Linked DNA regions of Homo sapiens. The protein of the gene in region 1 purifies or fractionates together with the protein of each later gene. This does not show direct contact. Each region holds a gene or a part of one and is shown in the gene's direction. Other genes may lie near its edges.

Evidence for each region.
Region 2: the proteins of TNRC6A (region 1) and CPSF7 purify together in Homo sapiens (affinity purification with mass spectrometry, with the first as the bait; one large-scale study listed by BioGRID). This does not show direct contact.
Region 3: the proteins of TNRC6A (region 1) and KMT2C purify together in Homo sapiens (affinity purification with mass spectrometry, with the first as the bait; one large-scale study listed by BioGRID). This does not show direct contact.
Region 4: the proteins of TNRC6A (region 1) and ITGB4 purify together in Homo sapiens (affinity purification with mass spectrometry; one large-scale study listed by BioGRID and IntAct). This does not show direct contact.

Annotation. Positions count from the first base shown.
Region 1 is NC_000016.10:24,732,485-24,736,287, forward strand, and holds part of TNRC6A (trinucleotide repeat-containing gene 6A protein), read left to right. Parts: intron 1-3,803.
Region 2 is NC_000011.10:61,423,191-61,426,993, reverse strand, and holds part of CPSF7 (cleavage and polyadenylation specificity factor subunit 7), read left to right. Parts: intron 1-3,803.
Region 3 is NC_000007.14:152,134,140-152,136,732, reverse strand, and holds the end of KMT2C (histone-lysine N-methyltransferase 2C), read left to right. Parts: 3' UTR 1-1,808; downstream 1,809-2,593. UniProt on the Homo sapiens protein: Histone methyltransferase that catalyzes methyl group transfer from S-adenosyl-L-methionine to the epsilon-amino group of 'Lys-4' of histone H3 (H3K4).
Region 4 is NC_000017.11:75,741,941-75,745,743, forward strand, and holds part of ITGB4 (integrin beta-4 isoform 1 precursor), read left to right. Parts: intron 1-400; coding exon 401-549; intron 550-641; coding exon 642-821; intron 822-1,772; coding exon 1,773-1,921; intron 1,922-3,803. UniProt on the Homo sapiens protein: Integrin alpha-6/beta-4 is a receptor for laminin. Plays a critical structural role in the hemidesmosome of epithelial cells. Is required for the regulation of keratinocyte polarity and motility.

The DNA of each region.
Region 1 (3,803 bases):
TGTGAGGTAGGTAGTATTGTTATCTCCGTTTTACAGATGGAGAATTTGATGTATAAAGAGGTTAAGTAACTTGGAGGAGACCATATCACTGGTAATTGGAGTAACTTTTTAGGCTTCGAACTTGCAAAATTTGAAAATTTCTTTTGGTAGGCGGGACCCACAGATGCATGCAATACTTCTAGATCAGTTTTTTCATCTGGGCACTTGACATTTTGGACCAGATAATTTATTATTTTGAGGGTTGTTCTGTGCATCACAGGATGTTCAGCATCCGCAGTAGCACTCCCCGTCCAGTTGTGACAATCACCAATGCTTCCAGATATTGCTAGATGTCCCTGGGAGTGGCGCAGAATCGACCCTGGCTGAGAACCACTGCTCTAGATCTTCATTAGGAATTGTAACGTGAAAGCCTCCAAACTTTTAGATGTTGAGTTAATTTAAACATCTTTTGGTCGAGTGCTGTGGCTCACACCTATAATCCCAGCACTTTGGGAGGCCAAGGCAGGTGGATTGCTTGAGGTCAGGAGTTCGAGACCAGCCTGGCCAACATAGTGAAACCTCATTTTTACTAAAAATACAAAAATTAGTTGGGCGTGGTGGCATGCGCCTGTATTCCCAGCTACCCGGGAGGCTGAGTCAGGAGAATTACTTGAACCCTGGGAGCGGAGAGCCGAGATTGTGCCACTGCACTCCAGCCTACTTGACAGAGTGAAACTCTGTCTGAAAAAAGAAAAAAAAATCTTTTAATAACATGGAAGCCTAGACCCTATTATGTAGATCCTCAATTTGGAAGCCCTGGTTTCTGAATGTCAAAGATGTGTTGCCATTCTCCTTTTCCTCTGCTAAGCTGCAAATCCTCAAGACAGTGTGCCTGGTAGCCAGTGCCAGTTAAACAACATTGGCACAAATAATAAATTTAGTTTACTATCATAGGTAAACTGTCTTTTAAAATTCACAGTTGGCCATTAAAATTGTCACATTATGTTAGTATCATGGGAGCCATAATATCTACATGAGGGCGATTACCATTAGAACTGAACTTTGAAGAATGGAATCAGTTTTGAAAGGCAGATAAAAGGGCATTGTAAGAACAACAACAGAAGTAAGGACACAAAAATCCAGAAAGTACAGGAGATTTTGATATTGCAGTGGGTAGTTCAGGTTATATAAGGTATTTGTAGCAAACTGGTTAAGGCCAGATATAGAGGTTCTTGAATGTCAGGTTGAGGAACTTGTGCATAAATTTTTAGGTATGGGAGCTATTGCATGCTTTTTGTTGCGTACTGATGTGATAGAATAATCTTCTGGTCTGGGATTACTAACCAGGTGTATTTATGGGAGAAAACTAGCGATCTAGGCAAGAAGCGATGGAGGCCTGAATTGAAGTGGTGGCAAAAAGAGGTGAGTGAGGCTGGACCCAGTGGCTAACGCCTGTAATCCCAGCACTTTGGGAGGCCAAGGCAGGAGGATTGAGCCCAGGAGTTTGAGACCAGCCTGTGCAACATGATAAGACTCTGCCTCTACAAAAGAATTTTAAAAAATTAGCTGGGTGTGGTGGTGTGCACCTGTAGTCCCAGCTACTTGGGAGGCTGAGGTGGGAGGTTTGCTTGAGCCCAGCAGTTTGAGGCTTCAGTGAGCTGAGTTTGTGCCACTGCATTCCAGCCTGGGAAACAGAGTGCAACCCTGTCTCAAAGCAAAAAGAGAGAGAAAGGAAAAAAAAGATGAGTGTATAAGATACTGAGGAAGTTAAGAATCTGGGATTTGACAGCTGATTAGGTGTCAGAGGAGTCAAAAATACATAGGAATCTTCATCATGGGTGAATGAGAGTTTGACCCAACCTCTGAACAGAACAAGTCAGAGCAGAAATAGGAGTTTGGGGAGAGAAGATGCTAAGTTACATTTTGCAGTTGTAAAAAAAAAATCTACCAGTACTGGTCTAGACCAGTAGAACTCAGCTGGTCTAGTCTGAAAAAATATTTTGGAGGCCAGAATCATAGAATCATTGAATATTTAGAGCTGGACTATGACTTTAGATAGAGATCAGCCAGCATTCTGACTTCTTCATTTCTCAAGTGAGAAAGCTGTGGTTGAAACAGATTCAGTAACTTACGCAAGTTTATATTCTCTGTCAAGTGACCCAGCTGGGATTTAAACAGGCCTTTTGACTCTAATTCTAGTATTCCTCCCATGTGCAGTATTTTATTTTATATTGCACAATAGATAAAATATAATTTTGGTTTCTCCTTTTTTATTCTAAAAGAGTAAAAGCAGTTATCTCAATATGTTATGTTCATTCTAGTGATGACTTTACTATCATGTACTAAATGTGTTTTGTTTAAAGTAGAAGTTAACTTCACGTTATACTGATTTGTCCCCCCATAAACCAACTGTATGTCATCATATAACAAAAGTTGTTAAAAGTGCTATATACCATATAATGTTGCATCTAAACTGGGACACTTATCTGAGATGCTTTTGCGTGGGACAAATGCTATATTAGAAATGACTAGGACTGGCCAGGTGCAGTGGCTCACACGGGTAATCCCAGCACTTTGGGAGACTGAGGCACGTGGATCATTTGAGGTCAGGAATTCAAGACCAGCTTGGCCAACATGGTGAGACCCCGTCTCTACTAAAAGTACAAAAATTAGCTGGGTGTGATGGCATGTGCCTGTAATCCCAGCTACTTGGGAGGCTGAGGCAGGAGAATCTGAACCTGGGAGGTGGAGGTTGCAGTGAGCCGAGATTGTGCCACTGCGCTCCAGCCTGGGCAACAGAGTGAAACTCTGTTTCGAAAGAAAGAAAAGAAATGACTAGGACAGCAGGAGTAAAACCCCAAGGCATTAGGTCTCCGTAGCTAAGGTGGATCCCACTCATGCAATTCATCAACCTTTGTCTGAAAAAAAAGAAAGAAAATCTGATTTTGTTAAGCTTTTCTTTTGCTTTGCTGTGATACGGTTTGCAGGCCAACACATGCATATTGCTATAGGTTGGTGCGAAAGTTAATTGTGGTTTTTGCTCATTTTTAATGTACCAACCCAATATGCTTTTTTTCCAGCTTAATTTGGCAATTAGGTGGTAAATCACTTGATAGGATAAATTAATCACAATCTGTAAACTTAATTTAAAAATGTGTAACAACCCTCTGTGGAAAATTTGAATATAAACATCAAAAGAATACCATTCTGTAAGCTCTTTTGATTTTTGGCATCTGAAATGTCTGAAAGTATAAATTGCAAAACATATTTACAATTTTAATGACAACTGCAAAAGTATTGCCCATGATTGGAAAGACTAAAATGGTATGCGTTATATGTATTCTGTTCAGGCTGATGCATGATAAATCTCTCACTGAAAAAACAGAAATCCCTATCTCATTTTAAAATTTTAAAAAATTGGCCGGGCACAGTGGCTCATGCCTGTAATCCCAGCACTTTGGGAGGCCGAGGTGGGCAGATCACTGGAGGTCAGGAGTTCAACACCAGCCTGACCAACATGGTGAAACCCCATCTTTACTAAAAATACCAAAATTAGCCTGGTGTGGTGGCACATGCCTGTAATCCCAGCTACTTGTGAGGGTGAGGGAGGAGAATCGCTTGAACCTGGGAGGCGAGGGTTGCAGTGAGCCGAAATTGCGCCATTGCACTCCAGCCTAGCCTGGGCACAAAAGCAAAACTCTGTCTCAAATAAATAATCAATCATTCTAACCTTAAGCAAAATTGGAAAAATGTTGCAACTAATACCTGTATCTCTTTACCTAGTTTTAGTGATTATTAATATTTTGCCACATTTGTTCTATCGT
Region 2 (3,803 bases), on another chromosome or scaffold:
AGCAGTGGCACCATCTTGGCTCGCTGCAACCTCCTTTTCCCAGGTTCAAATGATTCTCCTGCCTCAGCCTCCTGAGTAGATGGGACTACAGGCGCGCGCACCGCCATGCCCAGCTAATTTTTGTATTTTTAGTAGAGACGGGGTTTCACCATGTTGGCCAGGATGGTCTCAATCTCTTGACCTTGTGATCTGCCCACCTCGGCCTCCCAAAGTGCTGGGATTACAGGCGTGAGCCGCCGTACCCAGCCACCTTTGTTATTAATGAAAAGCTTTTCCCCTTCTAATTTCTTATCTGTGGATTGATAATAGTGCCATTCATTTCACTTTGAGAAATACGCAGAACTCATTGTCCAGTGGTCACTGCTTTGTTAGAGTATAAGTTATTGGCCTCAATAGTTTGTTCTCTGGTCTCCTCAGTTAAAAAGGACTTTTTTATGGGTCTAAGACAGGCTAAAGGTAGTATGTGGACTTTAATAGATACATATATCCAACGGGCAATATTTGACACTAGGCAAGCTGAAGAAAGTGTGAATTTTGAATATCTTATGTTTTGTGGAAGGTGAGGGATGAGTGCTTCCCCCCCACACACATATCAATTAGTTATTTTTGACAAAGTTAGTGTTAGTGTCATCTGGAAGCTACAGAAATTATTTAAAAAACAAAAAAACAAAAAAACTTTGGCTAGAATTGTTAGAAGCTGGCTTAGTCTGAAGGCACCCAGTACAAATTGTGTTTTAGAATGTTTTAAGAATGTTACTGATTTCGCCCCAAGCTGGCCCATGCACAGGAAGCCCTTCATGTGCACTTTGCTCCTCAAGGAAAATTAATATTTTTCCTAGATGGAACCCTATGGTGCTTATTCCCTGATCTCTTAGAGCATTTGCTGCAAAAGCCTGTTTTTGCCAGAGCTACTTTATTCCTGTAACACAGGGAGTCCTGGGATTCACATTGGCTCTCTTGGGCCAGGGAGAACTCTGGAAAGGTGACTGAGATCAGTTGCTCTGCTGGGAGTTTTGGCTTTTCATACTGAGACAGGCTTTGCACAGTGTCCAGTTCTCTTCCTTATGTCCATCAATAAGTATTTATTTATTGAGCTACTTGTGTTTGCTAAGCACTGTGCCAGGACTAGTGAGGTAAAAGGAAAAAAAAGTGGGTCCCTGTACTCAAAACAGATTCCACTCCTGGTGGGTAGGGGTGGTGGACAACGACAATGTACAGTGAAGGACAAGGAGGGTGTGAAGTGGGAACTGTGGAAATGGTCATTATAAAGCCAAAATTTTTGATTAAGCCTTGGTTACAATTAAAAGAAACAATGGTATCAAGTTGGTTGCTCTGAGAAAAATAAATCCTAGGCTAGTTACTTCCCTCAGTGGGATATGAGGAAGAAGAGGGTGGAGGTTAGGAACACTGAGCAGACAAGTGGAGAAGATCTTATTTAAATTGAAAATCACACATGTTCTCTTTTGTTTACAGGGAAGCAGGAAGTTTCATGAGACAGTCACAGTTCTTTCTGTGCCATTAAACACAAAATTCTTTGAGATAGTTATTCAGTATTAAATATATGTTTCATGTTTAATCTCCCTGGAATGAAACTTTGAACATCAGTGCATGTAAAATGTACTTTTCACTTAATTTGTAGAATTTGATTTTACTTTAATCTATTACTGCATAAATCCGCTGAGAAAAATCTCCGGCCCTTAACTGTGTTTCTGTCTTACTAGCTGAACAAGTAAAATGAATTGTGATGCTGGGGGATTAAAATCCAAACAATTTGATACCTTGTTTCTTCAGTAGAACCCTCAACAGACCTGCCCTGTGCAGTTCCCACCAGCTTCTTTGAACTGAGGCTCTGTGGCCCAGAGAGACCATTTAAATCTTGTGATAATTTTGTATTCATTCAATCCTTTTGTTTCTAAAAGTGGTAGCCATACCAAGATTCTCCAGGATCTAGTCTATCCTATTCTTAAGGGATCTTAAAACAGTGGATTGGTTGCCTAAGCATATAGTACGAAGGGTTTCCTGGTGATGCATTTGGTCTCTGAGCTGTCCAAATCTGCATGTTAGTCCACTACTCAATTTTCAGTGATCATTTTTACATTACAAATTTTAGACACATATACCTGAATTACAGATACTGCATGGAAGGGAATCTCAGTTTGGTTCCATTCGATTATCCAAGATGATGTGTTTCCTTATTCTGTTTACGTGTCATTTGAAAATCCTTGATTTAAAAAAAAAGAAGGCTGGGTGCAGTGGCTTACGCCTGTAATCCCAGCACTTTGAGAGGCTGAGGTGGGAGGATCACCTGAGGTCCGGAGTTAGAGACCAGCCTGGCCAACATGGTGAAACCCCATCTCTACTAAAAATACAAAAATTAGCTGGGTGTGGTGGTGCACACCTGTAATTCCAGCTGCTCGGGAGGCTGAGGCAGGAGAATCACTTGAACCCAGGAGGCGGAGGTTGCAGTGAGCCAAGATTGCGCCACTGCACTTCAACCTGGGTGACAAAGTGAGACTCTATCTCAGAAAAAAAGAAGAATCTTGGTGTGAAGTAGTGCTTTCTAAGGATTTGAGCATTGGATGGGATCAAGTGATGTATATAAATCCTTTCTCTACCTTGAACCACAGGAGCAACTCACCATACCTGGTACATGAATAGAAGAGTGATTTGTCTATAGAGTTGGGATAGTTTGAGACGTAACAGCTATGAAATATTTTATAGTGATTACTTACACACAAAATGTTTTCCCACTCATTAGCCCTAGCTGACCTCACCTTACTTTATTATCCACCCTGTCCTCTCCAGTGTTAGCTTCTCTCCTCATTCTTTACATGCTGACCCTTTTTATGCACAATCCTTTTTGATGGATTTGACTACATGGAACAAGCTTCCTGTGCTTATTTGCCTCACTAATTTCTTGTTGTTAAGTTGCCCCCTAAAAGTTTACTGTCTCTTGATATTCTTTTTCTAACGTTTTTACAAGGGTTAAGCCCTCCTGGTGGGTTTCTTAGAGTGTTTTAATATTTGAAATTATTTATATGCTTTAGGAAGTAGAATCCTTCCCCCTTCTCTATCAGAACAACCCAAGATTATTCTCTTAGTGTGCATTTTCTTCCACTGTACTTCAGATAAACTGAAAAACTGAAAGATTGTTTCCAAAGGTTCTTATAATACAAGGACTGGTCTAAGAGTAAATTTTTTAGTGAGTCGTCTTCAGATCACTTCAGAATTAGCAGTTATTGCCGTGATATTGGAGGGAGAAAGTTAAGGGAGCCGCCTGTCTTTAGTTGCCTTGGAGAAACTGTTTCTTCAGGGTACTAGACAAGTTTCCCAACTTAGGTGCCTCCTTTATTCCCTTTTTAAAAGAATAGCAATATGAAACTGCCGTAGCATCCTTAAAACACTGAACTACTTGCTGTCTCTGTCATTTTGGCAGCATTATCTTTAGCATTGTTTGAATGTTTTGTCTAATTCTTGTAATAAAAATAAAATGCTTGTCTAATCCTTAAAAAGATTTCTCTGAGGCTAGGCACGGTGGCTCACGCCTGTAATCCTAGCACTTTGGGAGGCCGAGGTGGGCAGATCACGAGATGAAGGGTTTGAGACCAGCCTGACCAACATGGTGAAACCCCATCTCTACTAAAAATACAAAAATTAGCTGGGCATGGTGGTGTGTGCCTGTAATCCCAGCTACTCAGGAGGCTGAGGCAGGAGAATCACTTGAACCCAAGAGGCAGAGGTTGCAGTGAGCTGAGATGGCGCCACTGCACTCCAGCCTGGGCAATGGAGCAAGACTGTGTCTC
Region 3 (2,593 bases), on another chromosome or scaffold:
GTTTTATGACTTTTTGAAAAAGCTTCTGGGAGTTCTGATTTCCTCAGTCCTTTAGGTTAAAGCAGCGCCAGGAGGAAGCTGACAGAAGCAGCGTTCCTGAAGTGGCCGAGGTTAAACGGAATCACAGAATGGTCCAGCACTTTTGCTTTTTTTTCTTTTCCTTTTCTTTTTTTTTTGTTTGTTTTTTGTTTTGTTTTTCCCTTGTGGGTGGGTTTCATTGTTTTGGTTTTCTAGTCTCACTAAGGAGAAACTTTTACTGGGGCAAAGAGCCGATGGCTGCCCTGCCCCGGGCAGGGGCCTTCCTATGAATGTAAGACTGAAATCACCAGCGAGGGGGACAGAGAGTGCTGGCCACGGCCTTATTAAAAAGGGGCAGGCCCTCTAACTTCAAAATGTTTTTAAATAAAGTAGACACCACTGAACAAGGAATGTACTGAAATGACTTCCTTAGGGATAGAGCTAAGGGATAATAACTTGCACTAAATACATTTAAATACTTGATTCCATGAGTCAGTTTATTGTAGTTTTTGATTTCTGTAAAATAAGAGAAACTTTTGTATTTATTATTGAATAAGTGAATGAAGCTATTTTTAAATAAAGTTAGAAGAAAGCCAAGCTGCTGCTGTTACCTGCAGAACTAACAAACCCTGTTACTTTGTACAGATATGTAAATATTTTGAGAAAAAATACAGTATAAAAATAGTTATTGACCAAATGCTACCAGGCTCTGCAGCAGCTCGGGGGCTTATAAAATGTTCATAGGGATGTTACAATATAATTTTGTGTTATAAAATATGCCATTATAATTATGTAATAACCAAAATTTCAACCTAGAGTGTTGGGGGTTTTTTGGAAACCGCAGTCTATTAGTACTCAATGGTTTTATACACCTTACTTCTGACAGAGCGGGGCGTATGCTACGACTACAACTTTTATAGCTGTTTTGGTAATTTAAACTAATTTTTTCATATTATATTGTTGCATCCCTACTTCTTCAGTCAGGTTTTTTTGTGCTTACAATTTGTGATAACTGTGAATAACTGCTTAAAAATACACCCAAATGGAGGCTGAATTTTTTCTTCAGCAAAAGTAGTTTTGATTAGAACTTTGTTTCAGCCACAGAGAATCATGTAAACGTAATAGGATCATGTAGCAGAAACTTAAATCTAACCCTTTAGCCTTCTATTTAACACAAAAATTTGAAAAAGTTAAAAAAAAAAAGGAGATGTGATTATGCTTACAGCTGCAGGACTCTGGCAATAGGGTTTTTGGAAGATGTAATTTTAAAATGTGTTTGTATGAACTGTTTGTTTACATTTCTTTAATAAAAAAAACACTGTTTTGTGTTTGCTTGTAGAAACTTAATCAGCATTTTGAACCAGGTTAGCTTTTTATTTTGTACTTAAAATTCTGGTACTGACACTTCACAGGCTAAGTATAAAATGAAGTTTTGTGTGCACAATTCAAGTGGACTGTAAACTGTTGGTATATTCAGTGATGCAGTTCTGAACTTGTATATGGCATGATGTATTTTTATCTTACAGAATAAATCAATTGTATATATTTTTCTCTTGATAAATAGCTGTATGAAATTTGTTTCCTGAATATTTTTCTTCTCTTGTACAATATCCTGACATCCTACCAGTATTTGTCCTACCGGGTTTTTGTTGTTTTCTGTTCTGTATAATAGTATCTAATGTTGGCAAAAATTGAATTTTTTGAAGTATACAGAGTGTTATGGGTTTTGGAATTTGTGGACACAGATTTAGAAGATCACCATTTACAAATAAAATATTTTACATCTATAAGAGCTGCCTAGAGCTTCTGTGTTAACTCCTCATATTCAAATTTGAGCTCTTAAATTGAGGATTGTCTGAAGTTCACTGACCATCTGATAGATCTTTCACAATTAGAGTGTTGATGCGATCAACTTGGTTTTCTTAGATTTTCAAATAAGTTTAGATGTAAATTCATAATTCATTCTAATTATGATACTTTTTCCTTCCCTTCGACTGAATAAAGAAGGGAACTTCTGTATCTTTTTAGGGTGTTTACCAAATTTAGAATATCCTTGGTGCCTTGTTCAAAGCCTGTTTTTGTTTAATTGGTAAATTTAGTCTTGGTTATGTTGCTGTTTTTTTTTTTTTTTTTTTTTTTTTGAGGCAGCTTTTCAGACTTTATTCTATGTGGTAGACTTTCTTTCTATCTTATTGAATTATTTAACGTATTAAATATAAAGGGGTTAAGAAAAAAACTGCTCAGAATCCCCTTTAGTTTCTAGGACAGATTTTTAACTGGGACTTCGCTAACACTAAAATAGCCAGCATTCCTAGTCCACCATGGAGCTTGCCTTCTAGTGAGGGGCACGGACAAAAACAGGTGACTTTTTTAGATGGGAGGTGGGCTGGGAGTCCCGTGGGGGCATTCTAAGGAGGCAGCATTTAAGCAAGACCTGAAGGATGAAGAGGAGCTGGGAGCGTGGCAGAGGCTTGCCTGGCAGAGGGGACAACTCATACAGGAGCCTTGAGATCTGAAAGAGGCTGATGCTGCCAGTAACTGAAAGGCAGGTGTGGCTGGGACAGAGTGGCAGGAG
Region 4 (3,803 bases), on another chromosome or scaffold:
CCCATTTTGCAGATGAGGAAGCTGAGGCTCAAAAGGGTTAAGTGACTTGCCCAAGGTTACCCAGCTATCGAGAACTAGAACCAGGGCTAGGGCCGCGGCAGCCTGGCCTGAGCACACACACCCTTAGCATCTTTGCTGTCCAGCCCTTGATGAGGTGGGCAGAGAAGCCCATTTCACAGAGGAGGACGCTGAGGACAGGGAGGCGCCATGGCTGGGCTGAGGCTGCAGGGTAAAGGGTATGGGGCTGGCATAGGCCTGGAGCACTGCCTGCCTCTGAAGACCCTGCACTTCTTGCTGTCTTACATCCTGGCCCCTGAAGGGGAGAAGACAGGCAGGAGGGACAGGGCAGCAGGTGCCAGCCTGACCCCTCCGCTGCCTGAACCTTCCACCCTCGACCCAGGCAAGACCACACCATTGTGGACACAGTGCTGATGGCGCCCCGCTCGGCCAAGCCGGCCCTGCTGAAGCTTACAGAGAAGCAGGTGGAACAGAGGGCCTTCCACGACCTCAAGGTGGCCCCCGGCTACTACACCCTCACTGCAGACCAGGGTAGGAGGGCGGGTCCGCTGTGCCACTGCCTCGCACCTCCCGCCTGTGTGGCCCTGTGACCCACCTCTGACCACCTCCGAACCCCCACCCAGACGCCCGGGGCATGGTGGAGTTCCAGGAGGGCGTGGAGCTGGTGGACGTACGGGTGCCCCTCTTTATCCGGCCTGAGGATGACGACGAGAAGCAGCTGCTGGTGGAGGCCATCGACGTGCCCGCAGGCACTGCCACCCTCGGCCGCCGCCTGGTAAACATCACCATCATCAAGGAGCAAGGTGGGTCTGGGTGGGGAGAGTGGGGAAGGCAGACGGGGGCTCGGGGGCACTGGTTCCTCCTGCTTAAGTGGAATTGCGACCTGGCCACGTGGCCTGGGCTAGTCACTTAACCTCTGCAAGCCTTGGTTTCTCCATCTGTAAAATGGGTAAGGGCTCTTTTACGGAATGCGTGGCTGTTCACCTCGCCACAGTGCCTGCCTGGTGGTGAGCGCTCAGTAAATGGAAGCTTCTGTTGCATCCTCATAAGGGCCAGCCCCTTGCTCCTCTCTATCTAGAAAAAGGGTTGGCCAAGGCATCACACCGTGGACATCTGACCCCTCCTCCCACCTGTGCCGGAAGCCACAGGCCTCAGGCCTGTTCCTGCTCTCCTCCAGCCCTGGGGCTGAAGGCTCCATCTCTGGTCCTGCCCGTGACTGGCCTCCCTCCTCTGCCTGGCCCTTCCAGGATGTCTGCTGGACACTTTGTTCCAGAACCACTTTTTTTTTTCTTGGGACAGAGTCTTGCTCTGCCACCCAGGCTGGAGTGCAATGGCACCATCTTGGCTCACTGCAACCGCTGCCTCCCAGGTTGAAGTGATTCTCCTGCCTCAGCCTCCCGAGTAGCTGGGATTACAGGCACTCGCCACCACGCCCAGCTAATTTTTCTATCTTTAGTAGAGATGGGGTTTCGCCATGTTGGCCAGGCTGGTCTCGAACTCCTGACCTCAGGTGATCCACCTGCCTCAGCCTCCCAAAGTGCTGGGATTACAGGCACAAGCCACTGCGCCCGGCCCCTCATCTTTTTCTGGAAGGATTTTCCGTTTCGCTCCTGTGCCCTTCCCAGAGGGCAATGCATAGAGGGAACCAAGCGGACTCCTGGATTCTGGGCTGGGCTGGGCAGGGTCACAGGAGAGCAGGAGGTGGGAAGGGACTGGGCCCAGCACACTCTGACAAATGCCCGGGCTCCTTGCAGCCAGAGACGTGGTGTCCTTTGAGCAGCCTGAGTTCTCGGTCAGCCGCGGGGACCAGGTGGCCCGCATCCCTGTCATCCGGCGTGTCCTGGACGGCGGGAAGTCCCAGGTCTCCTACCGCACACAGGATGGCACCGCGCAGGGCAACCGGGTGAGGCTGCGCCACAGGGTCGAGGGTGCAGCCCGGGGGGCTGCGTGGGCACCGCATTGGGTTCCCAAGACAAAGCAGCACATGGCAGCTGCTTGAGTCCCTGGATACTGGCCGTGCCCCTGGCTGGCCTCCCAAGGACACGTCCACCTGCTCCTGCCACCCTGTGGCAGGGGAGTCTCACCTGCCCAGGGTGCCAGTGACACGCTGGATGAGGCTCCATTGCTGCCAGGGACTCAGGCCAAGAGGGCTCGCTCTTTTTTTTTTTTTTTTTTTTTTGAGACAGAGTTTCGCTCTTGTTGCCCAGGCTGGAGTGCAATGGCACAATCTCAGCTCACCGCAACCTCCACCTCTCGGGTTCAAGCGATTCTGCTGCCTCAGCCTCCCTAGTAGCTGGGATTACAGGCATGTGCCACCACGCATGTCTAATTTTGTGTTTTTAGTAGAGACGGGGTTTCTCCATGTTGGTCAGGCTGGTCTGGAACTCCCGACCTCAGGTGATCCGCCCGCCTTGGCCTCCCAAAGTGCTGGGATTACAGGCGTGAGCCACCGCGCCCGGCCCAAGAGGGCTCTTTCTTCCTTCATGGGCCAGGGACCTGCCCAGACCATTCCTGTCCCCTCCTACAACTCAGGATCCACAGGGTAGCCAAACCTCTTGGAGATAAACTCCCCCTATATGCCCCAGTCCAGGGGGCTTTGGGTTTCTTGAGCTGGGATCGAAGACCCCATGTCCCCAGGCCAGACTCCCCAAGGGCTGTCACAATTTGCCAAGCAGCAGGAGCAACCCTTCAAGGCAGGGAGTGCCATGGCTGGACCAGCATCACCTTCACTGCTGAGCCCCAGTGCTGGGGTACAGCCAAATCAGGTGGCACACAGGCTGGACTGGGTTTACAGGCTTCATAGTTTTGTTTCTTTTGTTTTGTGTGGGGATTTTTTGCTTCTTAATTTTTGGGGGAGACAGGGTCTTGCTATGTTGCCCAAGCTGGTCTTGAACTCCTGACCTCAAGTGATCCACCCACCTCGGCCTCCCAAAGTGCTGGGATTACAGGAGTGAGCTACCACGCCCGGCCTAGTTTTTGTATTTTTAGAAGAGATGGGGTTTTGCCATGTTGGCCAGGCTGGTCTTAAACTCCTGATCTCAAGTGATCCGCCCACCTCGGCTTCCCAAAGTGCAGGGATTACAGGTGTAAGCCAGTGCACCTGGCCTTTCTAGTTTTTAAATGTTGGCAACAAATCCATAATTAAAAACAAAGGCGGGGCATGGTGGCTCACACCTGTAATCCCAGCACTTTGGGAGGCTAAGGTGGGAGAATCACTTAAACCCAGGAGTTCAAGACCAGCCTAGGCAACGTGGTGAGACCATGTCTATACATATAATTTAAACATTAGCTGGGCATGGTAGTGCATACTTGTGGACCCAGCTACTTGGAAGGCTGAGGCAGGAAGATCACTTGAGGCCAGGAGGTTGAGGCTACAGTGAGCCATGTTCATGCCACTGTACTTCAGCCTAGGCAACAGAGTAAGACCCTGTCTAAAAAAATAATAATAATTAATTTTTTAAAAATCAAACAAAAAAACAAAGAAACAAAACCTGGCTCAGTGCAGTAGCTCATGCATGTAATCCCAACACTGTGGGAGGGCACAGTGGGAGGATCACTTGAGCCCAGGAGTTGCAGGCCAGCTTGGGCAACATAGTAAGACCCTGTCTCTATTTTAAAAAAATAATAATAATAATAAAGGCCAGGCGAGGTGGCGTATGCCTGTAATCCTAGCACTGTGGGAGGCCAAGGCAGGTGGATCGCCTGAGGTCACGAGTTCGAGACCAGCCTGGCCAACATGGTGAAACCCTGTCTCTACTAAAAATACAAAAATTAGCTGGGCATGG